Linked DNA regions of Homo sapiens: regions 1, 2 and 3 are each linked to region 4. Evidence: fine-mapped expression QTL. A gene starts in region 4. Each other region holds a variant in brackets. All regions are shown on one strand. Distances are between the middles of the regions.

Region 1 (5,152 bases), 74 kb before region 4:
CCTACCAGAGCTATTTGTTAATTAGGTCTAAGCAACTTGATAAATATTTATGACCTAACAACTTAGTCTGAAAAACTGTATATAAAAATTGAAATAAAATAATTTTATTTCATTCTTAAATAATTAAAGTTACCTATTAATGGGATGCATTTTCCTGTTGAACACTGCATAACTTCTGTCAAACTAAAAGGAAGACGCTGAGGCACAAAATATAATTTAAAGAGTTTACTTGAGTGAAAGTGAGGACAGCTGCCCCAGAGATTCAGACCCTAGGAACCTGGAATACAAGCTTCCTTTGGACTTTGTTAATAAGCAGGTTTTTAAAGGCAAAAAAAAAAAAAAAAAAAAAGGAACAGGGAGTAAGCTGATACAAAGTTATTTATCAGGAATTCTCATTAGTTTACAGAAATAACATTGATTAGTGATAGGCTATACATTGTTCAGCTATAGGGTATGGGTTGTATTGTCTGATGCAACATTATTAGGTTAATTTATAGATACTTGTAGCAATAGCAAGCAATTTCAAGAGATGAATATGTAGCTCAAAGGAGGCGATAGAATGTGATTGCTGTTTGATTTTAATGTCTCTCTGGGCTTGGTAATTTAAAAGGATTTGGATTCCTCAGATAAAAGTTCTTCTCGCCTCTTCTCTTCTCTTAGCTGCTGCTGCTTCTTATTCTTCTTCTTCTTCCTCTTCTTCTTCTTCTCCTTCTGCTTCTTTATCTTCTTCTTTCCTCTCTCTTTCTCTCTCTCTTTTTCTCTCTCTCTCATTTCTTTGTTTTGTTTTGAAACAGGGTCTTGCTCTGCTGAAATGCAGTGGCATGATTATAGCCCACTGCAGCCTCCAACTCCTGGGCTCAAGCCATCCTCCCACCTCAGCCTCCAGAGTAGCCGGGACTACCACTGTACACCACTACACTCAGCTAATTTTTATTTTTATTTTTGTAGAGACAAGGTCTTCCTCTGTGTTTCCCAGGCTGGTCCCAGATTCCCAGGTTCAAGCAATCTTCCTGCCACGATCTCCCAAAATGCTAGGATTACTGGAGTAAGCCTCCATGCCCAGCCTCTTTTCTCACTTCTCAAGCCTTGGAATTAGACTGGACACCACCACCCTCATTTCCTGTTTCATGTTTCTGCACGTAGTGCCACAGGATAGGCACAGTAGACCCAGCTTCACAAGTAATATGACATAATCAAAAGAAATGTTGAAATGTTGCACAATCTAATGGTGACGCTGTCAACTACCGTGAGCTAATAGTTTGTGTGGTACCTGAATGGGTGTCAGGTATCACTGTGCTTTCCTTACAATTCTAAAATATCCAGTGGCACCCCAGGGCACCTTGGTACACAGCCTGGAAACCATGGGCTTGGAAGGCACTTCATCCATTTCATATTAGTACCTGTTTTCTCTAAAAATAAAAAACCACTTTATATTTTCCTACTGGACATAGTCCCTCTATTAATGAAGCATCCTCCATGAGAAAAATACAAAAAGGCCATTAAAAGTTCAATGAAAGTTATGAAAAAAAGAAAAAAAAATGAACTCAGGAAGTCTTCGAAAATGAGACAAGGCACCATGATCTTACTAAATCATCCAACATATGTCAAAATGTGTAATAAAACACATTTTTCCTTTGAATGCTAGCCAACTTCTGTTGTTTGCTTTGATTGACAGCTTGGATAGACTGGAACAGCAGGGAGCTGGTGAAACTACACTCCCAGGACAAAACAGGTTTCTACATTTTGTTTTGTTTTGTTTTGTTTTGTTTTGAATTCTTTGAAAACCAAGGAAGAAAGGAGAGGGAGCAGGACAAAGAGAAGAAGGCAAGAAGAGATCATCGCTGTCCTCACTTACACAGCTATTTTTTCCATTCAATTATACATTCGGCAAATATTTATATTCTCTTGCCTAGAGGCAATCATATTTGCATCAAATACTTGAATGCAGGATGTTAAAGAAACAACAGGCTGGTCAGAGTCCGGGCTACAAAGGCTTACAAGATCCTTAGGCTTGCACTAAGCACCTTTCCTCTGCTGCCTTCTGCCCCCGCTTTGGTGAGGTGACATTGTCCAGGCCTGCTCAATTCTTTCCTTTGTTGCACCCTAAGCACCTTCGCACCCCAATCTCTAGGTCCAGCAGGACCAGAACAAGGGAAAACAAAGCCTCACCGCAGGACAGTGTAGTTCAGGGCATGCAGAGCTCTTAAATCTTCAGTCATTCAGAAAGAAGGGACTGTTGCTCTTCACCCAGGAAGAATCTTAATTATCCAAATGCATAGGGGCCCTCATGGGTGGTTC[C/T]TTAAAATCTATGTGAGTCATACAATCAAAAAAAAGAAAAAGCAGATCCTGAAATCCGTGAGTAATAGAGCACAGTTTCAGAAGCAGGGGTACATTTTTTTTGCATTTGCTTCCAGATTTCTGAACTTAGGTTTCACTCTATAGAAATCTGAGCTGGTGGTAAAAGGAGTAAAAATGAATGTGTTATGAGCCCCTTGGTTCATAATGGGCATTTTCTTGTTGCCTCGCCACGGAACAAGGAGCAGCAGTAAGATCTTGTTCTCATCTCACAAAGCAGCTGCGCTGACACTTCAAGCAGCTGGCTCTAATGTCAGCAACTGACGTTTACCGTTGATCATTTCACCAGCTAAGTTAAACACACCAGGCTTGCTCATAAGTGCTGGCCATGAAGAAAGTGCTCGGAAGGCAAACAGCCAGTGAAAAATCCAGCCCCTCAGCACACACAGGAGAAAGTTTCCCTTTTTATAAACTATCTAAAAAGGGGAAAAGGGAGAGGCATCATACTTTAAATTATGAATTAGCTATTTCATGCTGCAGCCAAAGCACTTCTCTGTTGGAGTGAGCATATCCCTGTAATGGCTTTTTAAAGGATGTTTGCAAAGTTAAAAGTCTACAATATGAAAGATTTAACTCATTTGCACCATCATTAAGGAATGAATTACAGTCATGACATTTAAGAGTTGACTGTGTTGTTGTTATATGACAAAGAAACATCCTTTGAGCATTTCCCCAGAGCCTAGGCAGGATCTGAATTTCAGGAACCAACAAGGACCAAGTAAGTGCAATTACTGAAGGTATATAAAATCAAAACACCTGCCCCAAAACTTTGGTTTGACTTTAGGAGCTGTAAATTTCCAAAGCCAAACTGAAAAAAAGAATTGCTAGCCCCAACCACATCATTAAATGAGCCTAGCAATGAGGCACTTGGAGGAATCACAACCGTAAACCAAAAGTATCTGCGACAGATCTCAAAGAACTTAGAGATTTTTTTGGCTAAGGTTAAGGATGCACCCATGATACAGCCTCCTGTGACCTCCTGACGCAGGAGGTCCTGATGTGCCCAAGGTGGTTGAGCCACAACTTGGTTTTATACATTTTAGGGAGACATAAGGCAAGACATCAATCATCCCATGTAAAATGTACATTCATTCAGTCTAGAAAGGTGGGACAACTGGAAGCACCTGGAGATGGGGTGGCTGCTTCCAGGTCATAGGAGGATTTAAAGATTTTCTGGGCAATTAGTTGAAAGAGTAATTATCAATAGAAAGGACGGAAGGAATGTCTGGGTTATGATAAGGGGTTGTGGACACCAAAGATTTATCATGCAGATGAAGCCTCCAGGTAGCAGGCTTCAGAGAGCTTGTAAATGTTTCTTATCAGACTTAAAGAGTCTGTTCTGTCAGTAATTCCAAAAAGGAAGAGGGTATAATGAGGCATGTCTGGCTCCCACTTTCCATAATGGCCTGAACTTGTTTTTTCAGGTTAACTTTGGGATGCCCTTGCCGAGAGGAGGAGTCCATTCAGAGGGTTGGAGGGCTTAGAATTTTATTTTTGGGTTACACAACTCTACCATGGGAGAAAATTTGGAGGTGGACCTCAGACATCCAATGGAATCTAGTTTAGACCTGGGTAAGAAAGATAGTTTAGGAACAAGGAAAATGGAAAAATATAGGTTCCATGGCTTCAAATTCCACCAAAGAAGAGAAACAAGAAAGGAATACATAGAACATTTATAATCTAAACCATACAGAACTCTGATAGTGTCTGAAACGTTGTGGAGGAAGTCAGGAACCCCAGGTGTTTCTTTCAGGGCCAAATAGATCGTGACCCTGAGCAACTGCCCAGCTACAGACTGGGAAAGAAAGGGATGAGTGGAATCCTTGGATCTGGGGTCTCAAGTGCAGATTCTGCTAACAATAGCAATGATAGCAACGTGCAAATTTTTTCCTCCCTTATGGCCTTTGGGCTTGCTCTTCCTTCTACCTATAACCTCCCTGATCCTCATGTGCTGGCTAACTCTCCCCATTCACAACCCTGCCCGTGTCATAAGACTTTCCCACCCATCAGTCACTCTCGGCCACATCACTCTGCTCAAATTCCTTCACAACTCTTACTACCACCTGAATTTACCGTATTTATTATCCGTGTATTTGTTAATGGTCTGTCTCCCTAGTGGGGTAAGTGTTTAACAACTGGCTGTGGGAGAAAAGGAATGTTAGTAAATATATGTAGCACACAACTTCCAAGTAATAATCAACTATACAATACCCTTTATTGTAAATTCCATGTGGTCAGTTGAATCTCACTGAATGCCTTTGTTGATTTTTGCCAAACTCTTGTGTCTGTGACTGCAACTGTGGCTGCCGTTCAACCATGATTTGACAAATGGAGCTGCATCCCTATCTGCTAACTCTTTTCTCCATAAAAGTATTGCCATTTGATCTGATGTCATCTGCTGTTAAACTATTTCCCACCCTTGTACGAATTCTAGTCCCTAAATTGAAACCTCTTTCAGCTTCAGCCATGTTGTTTTCAACAATGCTAGCTATCATTTTTGTATAGTTGTAAGGACTGGAACAGTGTTTAATAAGAGCTTGCAAAATTTTTGAAAATATAACAATCTGCTTTCATGGGTCAACATGAGCCCTGTGCCTCTCCAGCTTGGATGGTAGTAAGTTTTATGAGAGGACAAAGGGCACCTGGCACATATCAAATATATACTGACTCTTACTTCATAAAAAACATACTAACATCAGTTGGGTGTGGTGTTTCACGCCTGTAATCCCAGCACTTTGGGAGGCCGAGGCAGGCAGATCACTTGAGGTCAGGAGTTCCAAATCAGCCTGGCCAACAT
Region 2 (5,152 bases), 32 kb before region 4:
AAAATCACCTTTCCTTATTTCATTGATGACTCTGATCCAACAGTGAACTAGTTCCAAGTATATTTCTATTTTAAATTATTAATCTACACCCTGTCACATTAGCTAACGCCAATGAAACCCAGGGAAGCTCATTGCTTTATGATCCATTAAAAGAAAAGAGCTCCACCTGCCTTCATAAACATTTGTTCTCTTTTTGATGTGCTTTTTAGGGCATACTAAATAAGAGGCCCATGATAAGACATTAAATGTTAAGCTAAGCATTGACCTAAAGTCTGAATCTGGGTTCCCAATGTGGGGAGAAGAGTTTGGGTTTAAATGTTTGACATATTACACTTGTACAACATTCTTGTAGCACTTTGACAAGTATACTAATTATATTTCTGATGGCATTATGAAAAATTTGTATTATCTGTGTTTAAGGAAATATTTGTGAATTTGAGGAGGGTAGCTCATTCTCCCCACCCCCATAACCCAGGTTTCCAAACCTTCTCTGAGGAGGTCAGAGGAATTAGAAAAGAAACCTAGGGCTGGGCACAGAGCTCACACCTGTAATCCCAGCATTTTGGGAAACTAAGATGGGCAGATTGCTTGAGCCCAGAAGTTCAAGACCAGCCTGGGCAATAAGGCAAAACTCCATCTTTACAAAAAATACAAAAATTAGCCGGGCATGGTGGTGAGTGCCTGTAGACCCAGCTATTCAGGAAGGCTGAGGCGGAAGGATCACCTGAGCCCACGGAGGTCAAAGCTACATTGAGCCATGATCATGCCACTGCACTCCAGCCTGGGTGACAGAAACCTTGTCTCAAAAAAATAAAAATAAAAAAGAAACCCATTTACTTGACAATTTGCCTGGGGATGTTTCTGCACAGCCTCAACCTTTGCTCAGCCCTGGTCCTAAGATCTCTTTTGAAGAGGTCCCATCTGAACTAAAAGTCTACTCAAGTCTTTCACTACTTAAGGTCCAGGACTTCAGCTAAGGACACCTGTTATGAGGTGAAAGTATTCATAGCTTCAACTGAAAAAAGTTCTAAGTCTTTCGGAGAAGCTCTTAAATACCAGTAGATATTAATGTTGCTCTGTTTCCTATCACAGTGACAGTCTACATGACGCTGCACCTTACTGCACCACCCCGTACTCACCCAGGGAAGCAGCAGAAGTCAGAATATTAGTCATTAGCTTCAGCAGACTTATTATTAACTTTTCTACATGGCCTTTCAGACTCAGGAGCAAATTTATGTCCAAGTTAGCTCAGTTCAAGACATAGAAGCAAAAAGCTGATTATTTGTCCTGTCTTCTCTTTCTATCTATGCTTCCAACTTCTGCTAGTCCCCTTCAACAGTCTGGCTGATAATGGTTAGGCCCCATTCATCAACTCAAATATTAAGATATGGCTGTTCACTTACCTAAGTCTATAATATGCTCCACATGGATCTCTGGCTTCAGACATCCCCTCTCTTTCTTCTTCATCCTTCTACTCCAGATGAACTACACCTTCTCTTCTTATTAATATTTAGGACAGGAGCTGTCTTATGTAGGATAGGCCTTACTTATTTCCTTTACACAAGGCAAGCAGAAGCCTCACATATGACTGAAGTCACATGTATTTCTGATTAAAGAAAATGAGGTAAAGGGAAAAGGAAGCAAAGGAACTCACAGGAACACTGGAGTTCCATAACACAGCATATTCAGTATGTTTATGAAAAGTTTATGGACTCCATTAACTCTAGCATATGTATACAAAGATTTCATTTGATGAACTTCATTGATCCATGAAGTCATATCAGCAAGAAAACTGTCCTTCAAGATCAATTCCTTCTTTGCTGGACCTTCCACTAATTCTCCTGGTTCCAAGCTACCAAGTTGCAAATGAGTTGCAATGACAAGTGAAGATCACTATTTAGCCAGCATTTGCAGATGGGGATTCTGGAACTCTCAGATAGATGAAGACACCCTTCTGAAATAATGGTCGATTATTTACTTAATGCTGGTTTAACTTGCTTTTTTAACCTGGCAGCCAAAACACAGTCTGCTGTTGGTAACAATGGAGAAATTTTATTCAGTAGAATTCCTTTTAGAGAGAGCACTGCACTTGTTTCAAATTAATGTCTTGATAAGACATTTTGGGAGTA[T/C]TTTTAAAAAGCCTAACAACCCAAGTGTCCATCAATGGATGAATGGATAAACAAAATGTGGTGAAGGGAACCAGAATATGACACCCCAAAATATGCCACTTTGGCATAAGAATTATTTTGAGCTGAAGACAATCAAGAAACAGCAGACAGAAAACAAAAAACAAACAAACAAACAAACAAAAACTCTCTGCCCTCCCCCTATCTGGCTAAAAGCAGGACATGACTTTCCATTTTTAATGGAAAAACCAAAGTCTGCAAAACAGTTTAAAGAGATTTTTCAGAGCCAACATGAAGGGCCATGACCTGGAGAAAAACAACCTTAAGTGGTCTTGAGAAAGTGCGCTCATGGCCAGGCACAGTGGCTCACACCTGTAATCTCAGCACTTTGGGAGGCCAAAGCAGGTGGATCACTTGAGGTGAGGAGTTCAAGACCAGCCTGGCAAACATGGTGAAACACTGTCTATACTAAAAATGCAAAAATTAGTTGGGCATGGTGGTGGGCACCTGTAGTCCCAGCTACTCGGGAGGCTGAGGCATGAGAATCACTTGAACCCCGGAGGTAGAGGCTGCAGTGAGCCGAGATCATTCCACAGCACTCCAGCCTGGGCAACAGAGGGAGACTATGTCAAAAAAAAAAAAAAAAAAATCAGAGAAAGTGTGTCCAAAGCAGTCGGGTTATAGTTTGGTTGTATACATTTCAAGGAGATAGGAATTACAGCTAAAGACATAAATCACTTTATGGAAGACAATATCGGTTCAGCCCAAAAAGGCAGGACATCCTGAGGTGGGGAGAAGAGCACTTACAAGTCATAGGTGGGTTTTGGGGATTCTTTAGTTGGAAATTGGTTGAAAAAATTAAGCTTTGTCTAAAGATTTGAAGTCGGTAGAAAGGAATGTTTAAGTTAAGGAGGTTCATTACCCAATACACTGGGTCAGAGTGACCTGTAGGGATGTGACTTAACCCTTGTCTGGCATGGTCATAGGTCCTGTTTACAATTTGGTATCTTACTGTCACAAAGAGTCTGTTTTGTCAGTCTTATGATCTCTATTTTAACATTAATACTGGTCAGTTGTGCCTAAACTCCAGAAGGGAGGGAGTATAAAAAAGTGTGTTCAACCTCACTTGCTGTCATGGTTGGAAATTCAGTTCTTAAGGTTTTTTGTGTCTCCATGGCCAAGAAGGATCTGTTCAGTCAGTGTGGGCTTAGGATTTTATTTTTAGGTTATGCGTTTATAAAGGTGTCCTCTCCCTTGCCAAGGAAGAGAACAACTCTTAATGCAATCACCTGATGGATTTGGTCTACCCTCTGCACAGACAAATCCAATTTACTGAGATTGTGGTATTGCAGTAAAGAAAGAGTTTAATTAACACTAGGCTGGCCACATGGAAGATGGAGTTATTACTCAAATCAGTCTTCCTGAAGGCTTGGAGGTTAGGGTTTCTTAAGGATACCTTGGTGGGTAGGGGACTAGGGAATACGTGTTGCTGACTGACTGAGGATACAATCATAGGGTTGTGGAAGATGGTCCTCATGCACTGAGTCTGCCTCTGGGTGGGGGCCATGGGACCGGCTGAGTCATGAGTCAGTAGCGTCGGTCAGTGGCCAAAATGCAAAAGTCTGAAAAACATCTCAAAAGATCAATCTTAAGTTCTACAATCATAATGTTATCTATAGGAGCAATAGGGGAAGTCACAAATCTTGTGACCTCTGGCCACATGACTCCTGAGTAGTAAGGGATTATAGAAACTATATTTTAGCAGAATTTAGGCCACTCCCATAGTTCTAATCTTGCGGTCTTTCATCAGTTTTACAAAGGTGGTTTCAGCTCCTGAACAAGGAGGGGATCAGTTTTAGGGAGGGATTGTCATCCTTGCTTCCACATTAAACTAGAAACTAAATCCCTTCCATGGTTAGCTTCCTATGCCCAGGAATGCGTGAAGACAGCCAGTCTGTGAGGCTAGAAGCAAGATGGAGTTGGTCATGTTAGACTCCTCTTGCTGTCATAATCTTCGCAAAGGTGGTTTCATTAATCATCGGGACTCTTCATCACTGGAGATGACTCTAGATTCTTTTCAGCCCAAAGACCTGGAGAGGAATGTATATAACAAACCTTACTAAACCACCCTTTTCTTCTATTTATTTCCCTATATATTTCCTTCCCACAAGTTACCACCATTAGGAATCCCCCTTTTCCTTTGTCTTGTCAATCTCTGCAATGTATCAAATGTATCACTGTTTGTCAAAATGCTGTGTCACCTCTTAGGTCTAACTGCTTCTCTGCCCCTTCACTTTTCTAGGAAGGCCCCTGTATATATACATGATAAACCTTTCCTCCTGCTAATCTGTCTTTTGTCAGTCTAATTTGCAGGGCCCCAGATACTGAACCTAAGAAGGTAAAGGAAAACATTTTTTTCTTCCCCCACAGTGGTATATGCATACCATGAACTATTATTACTTAGCATTTCAAAGGATGGAAATTCTGACATATGCTATACTATGCATGAACCTTGTGGACATTATGCTAAGTGAAATAAGCCAGTTACAATAAGATGAATACTATAAAATTCCACTGGTGGGAGTGTCTAAAATAGTCAAATTTATAGGGACAGAAAGTAGAATGGTGGTTGTCAGGCACTAGGGGGATGGGGAAATGAGAAGTTGTGTAATAGCCATAGAAGTTCAGTTTTGCAAGGCGAGAATGTTCTGGAGATTAGTTATCTAGGGGCCAAGGGAAAAGTTCCCCTTCTCCCTATGAAGTTTCACTGAAAAATCAACTCACAAAAGGCAGACTAGTAGGAGAAATAACATACAAATGCATTTAATGTGTACATGGGAACCTTCAGAATGAAGACAGAGGAAAGTGCACATTTTTATGCTTAGGTTCAAAAAGTATGTAGAGCTGTTTAGAAATATGACTGGACAAAAGGGTATGATGTAACTTTAACAGATGGAGTGAGGAAACCCAGCAAGGCCTGTCTGTCTAGATTCTTCTTGGCCTCTCTGAGCAGCATTTCTTCCTTC
Region 3 (5,152 bases), 49 kb before region 4:
ATGGCCACGTGTCAGTTGCAAAGGGATATTTTCCAGCAATCCCATCAGCCCTCAAGTTTCCCCCTTTGGGGAAGGTTCCCCAGGTCCCGTGATCCTGTACATGCCTAATCCTGTCACCCATTGTCATCAGCAAAAAGTACAAGACAGATTAATCCAAAGAGAATAGCAGTTAACAGCCCATTGTGCCAAATCCATTTTTAACCAAGAGGGACTTTACTGAGGGGAGGGCCTCTAACCCAATTCTCTAACCCAATACAGGTAAAATGTACTCCACTACTTACCCAAAGTCAGCCAATTGGTGCTGCAGTTACTTCCTTTGGATTAGAATAGTAACTAAGCCAAAAGGTTAGCAGATTTAATTTTTTTAATCAATTAGTCACTTAAGCTTTTTATTTGCCTTTCATAAAGTCTTCATATAAAAATACTGAAATCTTTTTACAAGCTTCTGCATATCAGTACAGATGAGACTAATTTGGAAGCCCTCATTTTCTAACACACTTCAGTGCAGTGTTGTTCATTTGGAACGTTCCACTGTAAGTTATCTTTAGTAAGATTTTGCCATTTCTTTAAGACTTCGCTGCTTATAAGGCCTAACACTTGTGCGTGTATAAGCCAGAAGGAACTCAATTCTTCAGAAATTAAGGATCTCATTTTTACCTCAAATATTGGCTTTGCTTTCAGGTTCCCTTGATCAACTTAGTCAGTGATTGATTTTTTTTCCTACCTAAGTGCACAAGAAAAATGAACCAAAGGGGTAGAACACAAAAATTCCTGTGAATTTCCAAAAGCCAAATTTTACACCCCCTGCAATATTGCCATTTACTACTGGTTTCCTTCTGACCCAGTCAGATGTAAGAAGCCTCTAGCTGGATCCAAACCAGCTAATTACTGGACTCAGTCCAGTTTCTCATCACAACTTCCAAATCCAGTTTGGATCAGAAACTTGCTCAAAGAAACTCGGAGAGCTAAAAACACAAATCCGTGGAGCTTTGGAATCTGAGAGAGAACTTACCACAATCCCCAGCTGCTCCAAGAGATCAATGGACACAATCAGTCCAGAGAGTTCCTCACTTGGTCACTCAGTGCTCCTAGGGGATGTTAGAAGCTCTACTTCGGATCCCACTTCTGACACCATCTGATAAAAGAAAAACTTCAGCTGAATTAAATTTAAAATAGTTTAACTGAGCAATGAACGATTCCTGAATTGGGCAGCCTCCTGAGCCAGAATAGGCTCAGAGACTCCAGCAGAGCCACATGGGGGAAGAAGATTTATGGAGAGAAAAGGAAAGTGACATACAGAAAAAAGAAGTGAGGTACAGAAACAGCTGGATTGGTTACAATTCGGTGTTTGCCTTATTTAAATACGGTTCAAACAATTGGCTACATTTGATTGGCCAAACCTTGATGATTGGCACAAATGTAGGCTATGGTCTATTTCTACTTCCACTTGTTATAGTTCACGTGTACAGAGATACCCTTAGGCTGAACTTAATATATGTAAGGAGGCAGCTTTGGGCTAAACTTGATTTAACTCATCTTAAACTGCAAACAACCTAGTAAGATTCCCCATTAGAACTTTCTGTTATCCACCAGCTCTGGGCTGCCCTAGAACATGTCACTTAATCCATTTTCCTCCCATGCTCCTAATTTTCCACATCCCCCCACCCCTTAATCCTTTCCTGTGAGAACAATATGGCTCTGTCTCAAATCTTTCAATTTTGCGTAACTGCACATTACTTATACTATCTTTAAGAAGGATGATTCACTTTGCAGTCAGGAAACAAATGATGCTCCAATTGCTGGGCTCTACCTTCCTTATGGGCTGCAGGGGATCAAAAATATTCAATGACTCTGCAGTCTAACCTAGCAGTTGAAGGGTTTGGTTCTGGTGTCAAGATTCCATTCTGTGACCTCATGTAAATTACTTGGCCCCTCTAAGCCTCAGCTTCTTAATTTGTAAAATGAAATGTGGACCCTGAGTAATAAAGACTGCATCTTGGGTAATAAAAATAATGCCTACCTTATGCATTTGGGGAGGGTCGTGTCAGATATTATACGACAAGGACTTCTCTAATCCCAGTGCCTAGCACAAGGTATTATAATAATAATTATTAAATCCCTCCCAATCTTAATAATTCTAAGTATTTGACAGTTTACTAATTGAACTCCAAATACTCATTTAATAAGCATCCATTTAATGACTACTATTTAATATGCACATAGCACTAAAAAATAAATAAGGAGGAAGGAAGTAAGGAAAAATAAACATCTACTGAGAGCTATCTATGTGCCAGGCACTTTACATAAATCATCTTGTTTACTCCTTCAAATAA[C/T]TTGAGAAAGCTTTGTGTCCTCACTTCTATGGATGGCACAGAGCTATGAGAGGTTATATAACTTGCCTGTAAGGCACAAATCTGAGTTGGTACCCAGGTCTGTTTCACTCAGGGGCCCTTTCTCCTCCACAAATTGCTGTGCCTCACAAGTAGAGTGTATGTCTCAAACTGACCAAACCTTAAATTCAAAAGGAAAAGGGAAGAAAAGAGAGGTCAGATGAATGGAAAGTGGAGGAGAAAGAGGGAAGGATAGGAAGGAGGATGACCGGAAGGAGAATCGGATGTTGAGGAAGAGATAATGGAACAACAGGGAGATGCCAAGCAGCTCCTCCACTTCCATCCCTTGCAGTGGTTGGTGGAGAGCCAGCCCCTTTAGCTCATCCTTATCACCTTAGGTGACGTGTCCCTGCCAAACAAACTAGTGCCAAAAGGAAATGCATCATGTCTGTGACTTCCCACAAACTCGAGCTAACCAGAGCTGATCTCACCCTCTCCTTTTGGAAGCTCCAACAAAAGCACTATAGCCTTCTAGGTAGATTCTAACTCCCTGTCTTATTTACAGTTTAATTTTGTACTGGTAATTGTCTCATGTGGGCTCATCTTATTCTCATACCCAAGCTATAAAATATTCAATGCATGCATTTTGGTTTACTCTTCTGTAAGAAGATGGTCACAGATGAAAGCACACTACAAAATTTTATAAGACTTTTCTGAGAAGAAACTGAAAAACTCTGCCCAGAACTTGGGGTAGCTACTCACAGATTACTTGTTGGGGTAGAGAGAGTTACTTAAGAGCGAATAGCATAAACTCTGGAAATATACTGCCAGATATTATGAGGTTATCCTAATAACTTCATATATCCAATATCCAATGGTCCCATGATGATGGGGGTGTCTGCTGAAGGGAATGAGCCCTTGTCATTGGGAAGAGGTCAGTTTGAGAGTAGGGAACAGAGACTCTGGAAGGAGCTTATCTGGTAGTGGTAGGAGGAATATTTTCTTTGCTCTAGATCTGGCCAATGCTTGGCAGTCTCAGGGTCATGCAATTGCCGGAAGCATTTCTGTTGGTGGAGGGTGGCTTTCCTTGTCCCTGGGCGATTACCTGTAAGAGAACCTGGGACCGTGCCAAGGAAAGGGTCTCGGGTTGGGTCCTGACTCGGCAGTGCGTCTGAATCATGCTCTGTGCCACGTGTCCTTTCATCATCAGTACAGTCTGTCCTGCATTGGATCAGGGAGGGGTCCACATCCACATCTTTGTCAGGACCATGCAGGGAAATGCTGGACCCCTTCCCTGGAGGTCAGGTGATGGTGCCAACAGAGGACAACAGGGCTCAGCAGCAGCCAGAGTACTGCCTAGGGGTGTTACCTTGTAATATGAAAAGAAGCAATATCTCCCTCTTGGTTGTCACGAGATTTAGAGGAAAGATGTGCAAAGTGACTGGAATTCATATCCTCATTCAACGTTTATTCATCTCATTACATGGTGTAGTTACTTCACGCCAAGCTCCAGGCAATAGGAATACAGCAATGAGGGAGCTGGGTCAAGTCACTGCTCTCTTAGTTTATATCCTCTTGAGAAGTGGGGACAGACAGTAAGAAGATAAACACACTGTCAGGGACTGAGATGGGGATTTGGGTGCATGTGATTTATTGAGGATGTTCTCCTCAGGAAAACCTGTAAAGGATGAAGAAATCAGGATGGGGAAGGGGAAGAAGCCAAGCAGAGGGGTGCTGTGGAAAAATCTAACCTGGGCCTGATCCCTGGGGGCCCTGAAGTGCAAATCACACCTTCAGAGTTGTCCTTGAAAGCAACAGTGGGGAGCTTTTGTACCCGTCTCTGTCAGTCATTGGCCACCCCAGGGTGTTGTAGTAGCCTCTCAGGTAAAGAGGCTCCTTAGGCAAGAGCGTTTCTTAGAAGAAGGCCATGGGTGTAAGGTGTTAGCTGCTGCGTGCCCAGGAGTGGGGCACACGGGCTGGTTATGGGTCATGCGCAGAGTCTCAACAACATCAGCTACATCTCTTCATAAGGGGAAAAGTCAGGCAGTGGGAACTTCTAGGAGAGAATGGAAATTCAGCGACAGCAGAGGGACTGTACCGTTGCTTTAGACTGCGTGGCCATGAAATGGGCAGATTCAGATTTTATAGATTTTGAGACTTACAATTTGGAGGTGCCTTTTTAAAGTAAAAGACTGTGAAATCATGAATACAAAGCTAGCACAAACATGAAAATTTATTCAAAATGAGAAGACAAAGAATTACAAATAAAAGCTAAGAAATAAGCATCACAAAATCCAGAAAAAATAATTAATATTTAATTAAAGTTAATAAAACTTTCTGACATACCTCTACAATACCTTTTCCTACATTATTTGGCCATATATATTTTGATTACCTCCTTATATGATAATGGCTTGGTATTTGCTTTTTATTAAGAGACTAGAAAGACATTTTGGTCTTTCCCTTAAAGTGGTAAACCATTTGTTGTTAATACTTCTCAAAAGTTTTTCAGCTTCACAACTTGTTATTTGGTAAAATTATGTGAATTTTGAGGATGATTATCAAGATTGGGAAACCCTCAATTAAGCTTCTTTCATATATGAGCTATAAGCTTTGAAAAGATGCCCCACAGATAGCTTCTGACTCCACACATTTCAAACTCACTTTTGCCAGGCACAGTGGCTCACACTTGTAATCCCAGTTATTAGGGAGGCTGAGGTGGGAGGATCCTTTGAGCCCAGGAGTTTGAGACCATCCTGGACAACATAGTGAGATCCTGTCTCTTCAAGCAAATTGGTCGGGGGTGGTGGCTCACGCCTGTA
Region 4 (5,152 bases):
CTCCATTCCAGTATTGATGAAGCCACCATTTCTTCCAGTCTCCAGCCACAGCACCCTGCAGGAAATCAGATAGTGTCCACGTACTTCTCTTAAAAAGATAGGATTTCTAAGGTACATCAGCAAGCCTTCACTTTGTTCCCACCCAGTTCCCTTTCCCATTCCTAGAGTAACTTTGCCTAAATTTAATCTTCTCAAGCTCCAGTCCCCCTCCTCAGACCTCTTAGTCAATGAACAACAATGAAAGGGAAACGTCTTCAACCCTTCCAGTGGAAATAACATTTAGCATAGTGACTACTGCACAATTAAAAAAAAAAAAACCTACTCAAAGACTCTACAATGTCATACTAAGACTTCCAACTCTTAGGCCAGGCAAGGTGGCTCACTCATGTAATCCCAGCACTTTGGGAGGCTGAGGCAGAAGGATCACTTGAGGCCAGGAGTTCAAGACTAGCCTGGCCAACATGGTGAAACCTGGTCTCTATTAAAAATGCAGAAGTTAGGCATGTGTGGTGTAAAAATACAAAAGTTACGTAGGTGTGGCGATGCGTGCCTGTAATCCCAGGTACGTTAGAGGCTGAAACACAAGAATCGCTTGAACCTGGAAGGCAGAGGCTGCAGTGAGCTGAGATTGCACCACTGCACTCAAGCCTGGGCAACAGAGTGAGACTGTATCTCAAAACAAACAAACAAACAAACAAACAAACAAACAATAAAACAACTTCTCTTTAAGAAAAAAAAAAAGATGGCCAGGCACGGTGGCTCACGCCTGTAATCCCAGCGATCTGGGAGGCCGAGGCAGGCAGATCGCCCGAGGTCGGGAGTTCCAGACCAGCCTGGCCAACATGGTGAAACCCCGTCTCTACTAAAAATACAAAAATTAGCCGGGCCTGGTGGCAGGTGCCTGTAATCCGAGCTACTCGGTAGGCTGAGGCAGGAGAATTGCTTGAACCTGAGAGGAGGTTGCAGTGAGCCGAGATCATGCCATTGCACTCCAGACTGGGCAACAGAATTGAGACTCCATCTCAAAAAATAAAGAAAGAAATAAAAAATTAAAAAAAAAATTCCAACTCTTGGAAAATTCCCTTTAAAGAGTTACGAATTAAGCTGGTTTATTTATGTAATAAACGCTTCGCACAGTTCTTACAATGTGCCTGCCAACCTTATTTAGGTAGGTACAATTAAGACTTCCACTTTACACACCAGAAAATAAGGCACAGAGTCGACACAGCCACTGAGTGTCAGAGCAAGAATTGGCACTCATCCCGTGAGCGCCTCAGTTCTTTTTTTTTCTTTATATATACTTTAAGTTCTAGGGCACATGTGCACAACTGTGGCACATATACACCACGGAATACTATGCAGCCATAAAAAAGGATGAGTTCATGTCCTTTGTACGGACATGGATGAAGCTGGAAACCATCATTCTCAGCAAACTATCGCAAGGGCAGAGCGCCTCAGTTCTTAAACCACTCTTCTATGCTGCGGCAGAATCACTGGAAGTCTCAGGGAGTCCTGAGTGCGCAATTCTAGGAAAAGTATCTATATCTGTAAGAAAGAAGGGGCAGGGAATCTAACGGTTCTCAGCTCTTGAAGGCACATTAGATTCATTCAAGGTCCTCTCTAAAAATACACTTTCTTGGGCCTCCACGAGAAAAATTCTATTCAATTAGTCGTGGGCTTGCATCCGTATTTTTAGTCTGTAAAAGTGGAATGTTATCTCAAATCAGTGGTTTTCAAACTTTTTATATTCTGCGGACCTTGACACGGGCCCCCAATACCCTGACACGGTTACTTACAATCCGGGAGAGAGTGGGAGAAAGGGGGAGAGAGGGAAGGGGAGAGGGGGAGGGGAGAGAGAGAGAATGAATGAGAATGAATCTTTTAGAGAGGTAGAGGGGGTTGGCCCGTGCCACAAACCACCTCTCAGGTTTGAGTGAAGCCTTCGTTCTCTCTCGTGCAGAGACCATGCCATCCTTCCAGAAAGGAGCATTTTAGGACGTTTTAGGACGAGAGACCTGTAATTGGCCTAAGACTCAGGTGCAGGTGGAGGAAGCATCGGATTTACAACAGTGGTCCTGCCTTCTTCGATGTGACTTCCAGTTTTAAATTCAATTCTAATTTACACAAATCCCACCCACTATGTAAACTTGTTGGAAAATGTCCTGCACTCTGCACTTCGTGGCATTTAAAACTTCCACACACGCGCGCGTTCTTTCTCGAAGCCCCGTGATTGCTTAGCCTCGCTGGGCAGCTTGGCACTGCTGGGAGCTTGGCTCGCCCTGCCGGGGCCGACGCCGCCCGTCCCGCAGGAGCCCGCGCGGGGCTCAGGGCACTCAGGACTCCGCATGCGTCCCGGCTCCAGGTGGGCCCCGGCACCGCCAACCGCAGGAAACCCGCCGAGCCCTAAACGTCTCCCAAGCGGCTGCAGTCTGCGACAGAGAGTGTCCCTCGGTGGAGCGCCCTGTGGCTGCCCAGGCTACAGCCGTGGCCGAGGCGAGGACACACTTCTGACCTGGGGCTCCAGCAAAGACTGTCCGCGAGCGGCGACTCCATGCCCGCAGCCCTCCGCCCAGCTCAGCCGCCCGGCCGCGGGCACCAGCAGCCGCGCCACGAAAGGGCGCACCGCGCGGGCGCCGTCTCTCCTAGGTGCGAAGGCGGCTGAGGCCCCGCCCGGGAGGCACCCGCGCGGCTCCGGAGTGGGCCGGAGGGACGTCCGGGGGCGGGGCCCGGGCGCGCCCGCCCTCTGACCGGGCTATAACACCCGGCCCCGCCGGGCGGCCGCGGGTGGGTAGAGGTGCGCGCCTGGGACCTGGTGAGGCTGGGGGTGCGCGGGGCCGGGCGCAGCTGTGGCAGCTGCCGGACGGCGGAGGCGCCAGGAGGAGGAGGAGAGGGAGGCGCGGGCGGCTGGGTCGAGGGCACCGAGGCTGCCCGTGCTCCCGGTCTCTGGTTGCACGGCTCACTCCCGAAGGTGTTGCTTCCAGCTTTTGCCTCCTTAGGAGGCAGGGAGCGTCAGTGTCGGGAGACCCTGAGACCGGAGTACCGAGACGTAGCTGGTGATGCCCCCGCCTGCCCTCATGTGTTCTCAGGTTCTTCTTATTTTTATTCATCTCTAGAACATGGACTTCCCGTGCCTCTGGCTAGGGCTGTTGCTGCCTTTGGTAGCTGCGCTGGATTTCAACTACCACCGCCAGGAAGGGATGGAAGCGTTTTTGAAGACTGTTGCCCAAAACTACAGTTCTGTCACTCACTTACACAGTATTGGGAAATCTGTGAAAGGTAGGGTCCGTCTCGTGAACACTTTGCCAAACCCTCAGTCCTCCCTTTCAGTATTCATTAAATATGCCCCAGCTTCCTGTCTGCTCTTCCACGCACCTACTCTGAGTGGCACAGAACAAGTCAACCGGTACCGTGCGTGTTGGTTGTTTTCTGCTTTTGTTGGGAGGAATAGTAGGAAGAACTGAATTTTACTGGACTTGTCCATTGTAATTCAGTGTCACTGAGTCCTTTCCATTATTGGAGTTCTTCTGTCTTTTTGGATCTTGCAGACATTGGTTATTTGGGATGTATGTTTTAGTTCCTTTTCAAGATAAACTCCCAAGTAAGTCCGTTTATCCGTTTCAGTTCCCCTTTGTGTGGGCTTCTTTATATATGACTTGGACTGTTAATGTCATTTCTTCATGTCTCTTTTAAACTGAAATAATGCAGTTTTGTTGGTAAGATTTCTGTGTCATCTGTAGTTAGCCTTTTATTTAAAGTTATGCAAAACTATCATTTCTGCAAGTTTCTTTTAATCTAAGTAGTACAGTTCTGTTGGTTAGATTTGTGTCGTGTATAATTAGCCCTATGGCTTAAAGTTATGCAAAAAAGTGGTTCTATGATTAAAGGCTGTTTTTAAAATGTATCCATTTGAAGAAGACAATGCTAGATAATGAATATATATTAGTAGTGATTGAAACTCTTCCCAGCATTTTCATATTTATCATTAATAATTTATTGTTCTAAGTTAGAAACTACATAAAGTTATTTTCATTTTTATAGACAGCAAGTTTGAATCAGATAAATTAAATAATTTGTTCAAGGTCTCCCAGATGGTGAATTTTATAGCCAGGACTGGCACCCATCCGGCCAAGGCAAATAATTTGATCAGATATCGTTATTTCATCTTTCTTTCTTTCTTTCTTTCTTTCTTTTTTTTTTTTTTTTTTTTTTGGTCAGAGTCTCGCTCTGTTGCCCAGGCTGGAGTGCAGTGGCGTGATCTCGGCTCACTGCAACCTCCGGCTTCCTGAGTTCAAGCAATTCTCCTGCCTCAGTCTCCCGAGTAGCTGGGATTACAGGAATGCGCCACCACAGCTGGCTAATTTTTTTGTATTTTTAGTAGAGATGGGGTTTCACCATATTGGCCAGGCTGGTCTCAAACTCCTGACCTTGTGATCCTCCTGCTTCGGCCTCCCAAAGTGCTAGGATTACAGGTATGAGCCACCGTGCCCGGCCGAGATACCATTATTACTTAATCATCTTTTATTATCCTGATGTTCCCAAAGAGGTTACCAGAAAACTTAGTCCTTAAATCAAAAGTTTCATAAATTTTATGCAATTTGGATCTCAACTTTTTGTAAGGTGTGTTCAAACTCTACCTTGATTTTAGCTCTGAACTTTTGAGTCAATTGAGAGTCTCATAATTACCATATTCTTCATCATTTTTCAAAAAAATCAAGGCTATGGCTTCTATATTAAAGAAAAAGTATTATATAAATGTATTTATGTGCAATGCGAAGTCAATATCCTGGGCTGTGTGTAATAGTAACTTTGTTTTTAAACAGCATTGCCAAAGAGATGGTGCCAGAATTACTCTATATTGCTCTATAATCCAAAATTATAGAGGTTGGGTGTGTGAGAAATCATATCTTGAATCAGCATACGTATTCAGCCTTCTGAAATCATTTTTCCCTAGGGCTAGAGTAGAGCAATTTAAAAAGATCTAGGAATACTAATTATATTAATTAAAAATATATAGAACACAACTAGCTTGAGTTATTGTTCAGTCATCATTTCAACCACAAGATGATGAGGATGTTGTTAATTTTAAGTACTAAGTGATTTGGTAAGGTTTTGTATTTTCAAACACAATGTGCTTGTGACAGTTGGGGGCTCT

Alleles and levels. Positions count from the first base shown, and alleles are read on the strand shown. Sizes are in standard deviations (SD) of each study's normalised expression. Not every link is listed here.
As copies of C replace T in region 2, the expression in monocytes after LPS of the gene that starts at base 2,783 in region 4 goes down (moderate effect, 0.64 SD a copy in Fairfax 2014).
For the expression in monocytes after LPS of the gene that starts at base 2,783 in region 4, allele C in region 3 goes with a lower level than allele T (moderate effect, 0.58 SD a copy in Fairfax 2014).

What was found. PIP is the estimated chance that this variant, and not a neighbour inherited with it, causes the effect.
Region 1: its variant is the best candidate, but not a certain one, in a credible set for the expression of CPM in whole blood (TOPMed, PIP 0.82).
Region 2: its variant is the best candidate, but not a certain one, in a credible set for the expression of CPM in monocytes after LPS (Fairfax 2014, PIP 0.58).
Region 3: its variant is the best candidate, but not a certain one, in a credible set for the expression of CPM in monocytes after LPS (Fairfax 2014, PIP 0.89).

Annotation. Positions count from the first base shown.
Region 1 is chr12:69,004,754-69,009,905 of GRCh38, reverse strand. It overlaps TODL (transcript overexpressed in dedifferentiated liposarcoma), which reads right to left and starts at 2,247. Exons shown (of 3, transcript XR_001749099.2): 1 at 2,170-2,247. RefSeq lists an enhancer at 1,770-2,463. The variant C/T (reference allele first, on the strand shown) is at 2,299.
Region 2 is chr12:68,963,227-68,968,378 of GRCh38, reverse strand. It overlaps a transcript of CPM not described here. Among named protein-coding and RNA genes, the nearest start is that of CPM, 33 kb to the right of the region's middle. The variant T/C (reference allele first, on the strand shown) is at 2,130.
Region 3 is chr12:68,979,338-68,984,489 of GRCh38, reverse strand. No RefSeq gene overlaps it. Among named protein-coding and RNA genes, the nearest start is that of TODL, 26 kb to the left of the region's middle. The variant C/T (reference allele first, on the strand shown) is at 2,334.
Region 4 is chr12:68,930,802-68,935,953 of GRCh38, reverse strand. CPM (carboxypeptidase M) reads left to right here and starts at 2,783. Exons shown (of 9, transcript NM_198320.5): 1 at 2,783-2,812; 2 at 3,114-3,276. The coding sequence starts at 3,117. RefSeq lists silencers at 2,404-2,513, 2,544-2,903.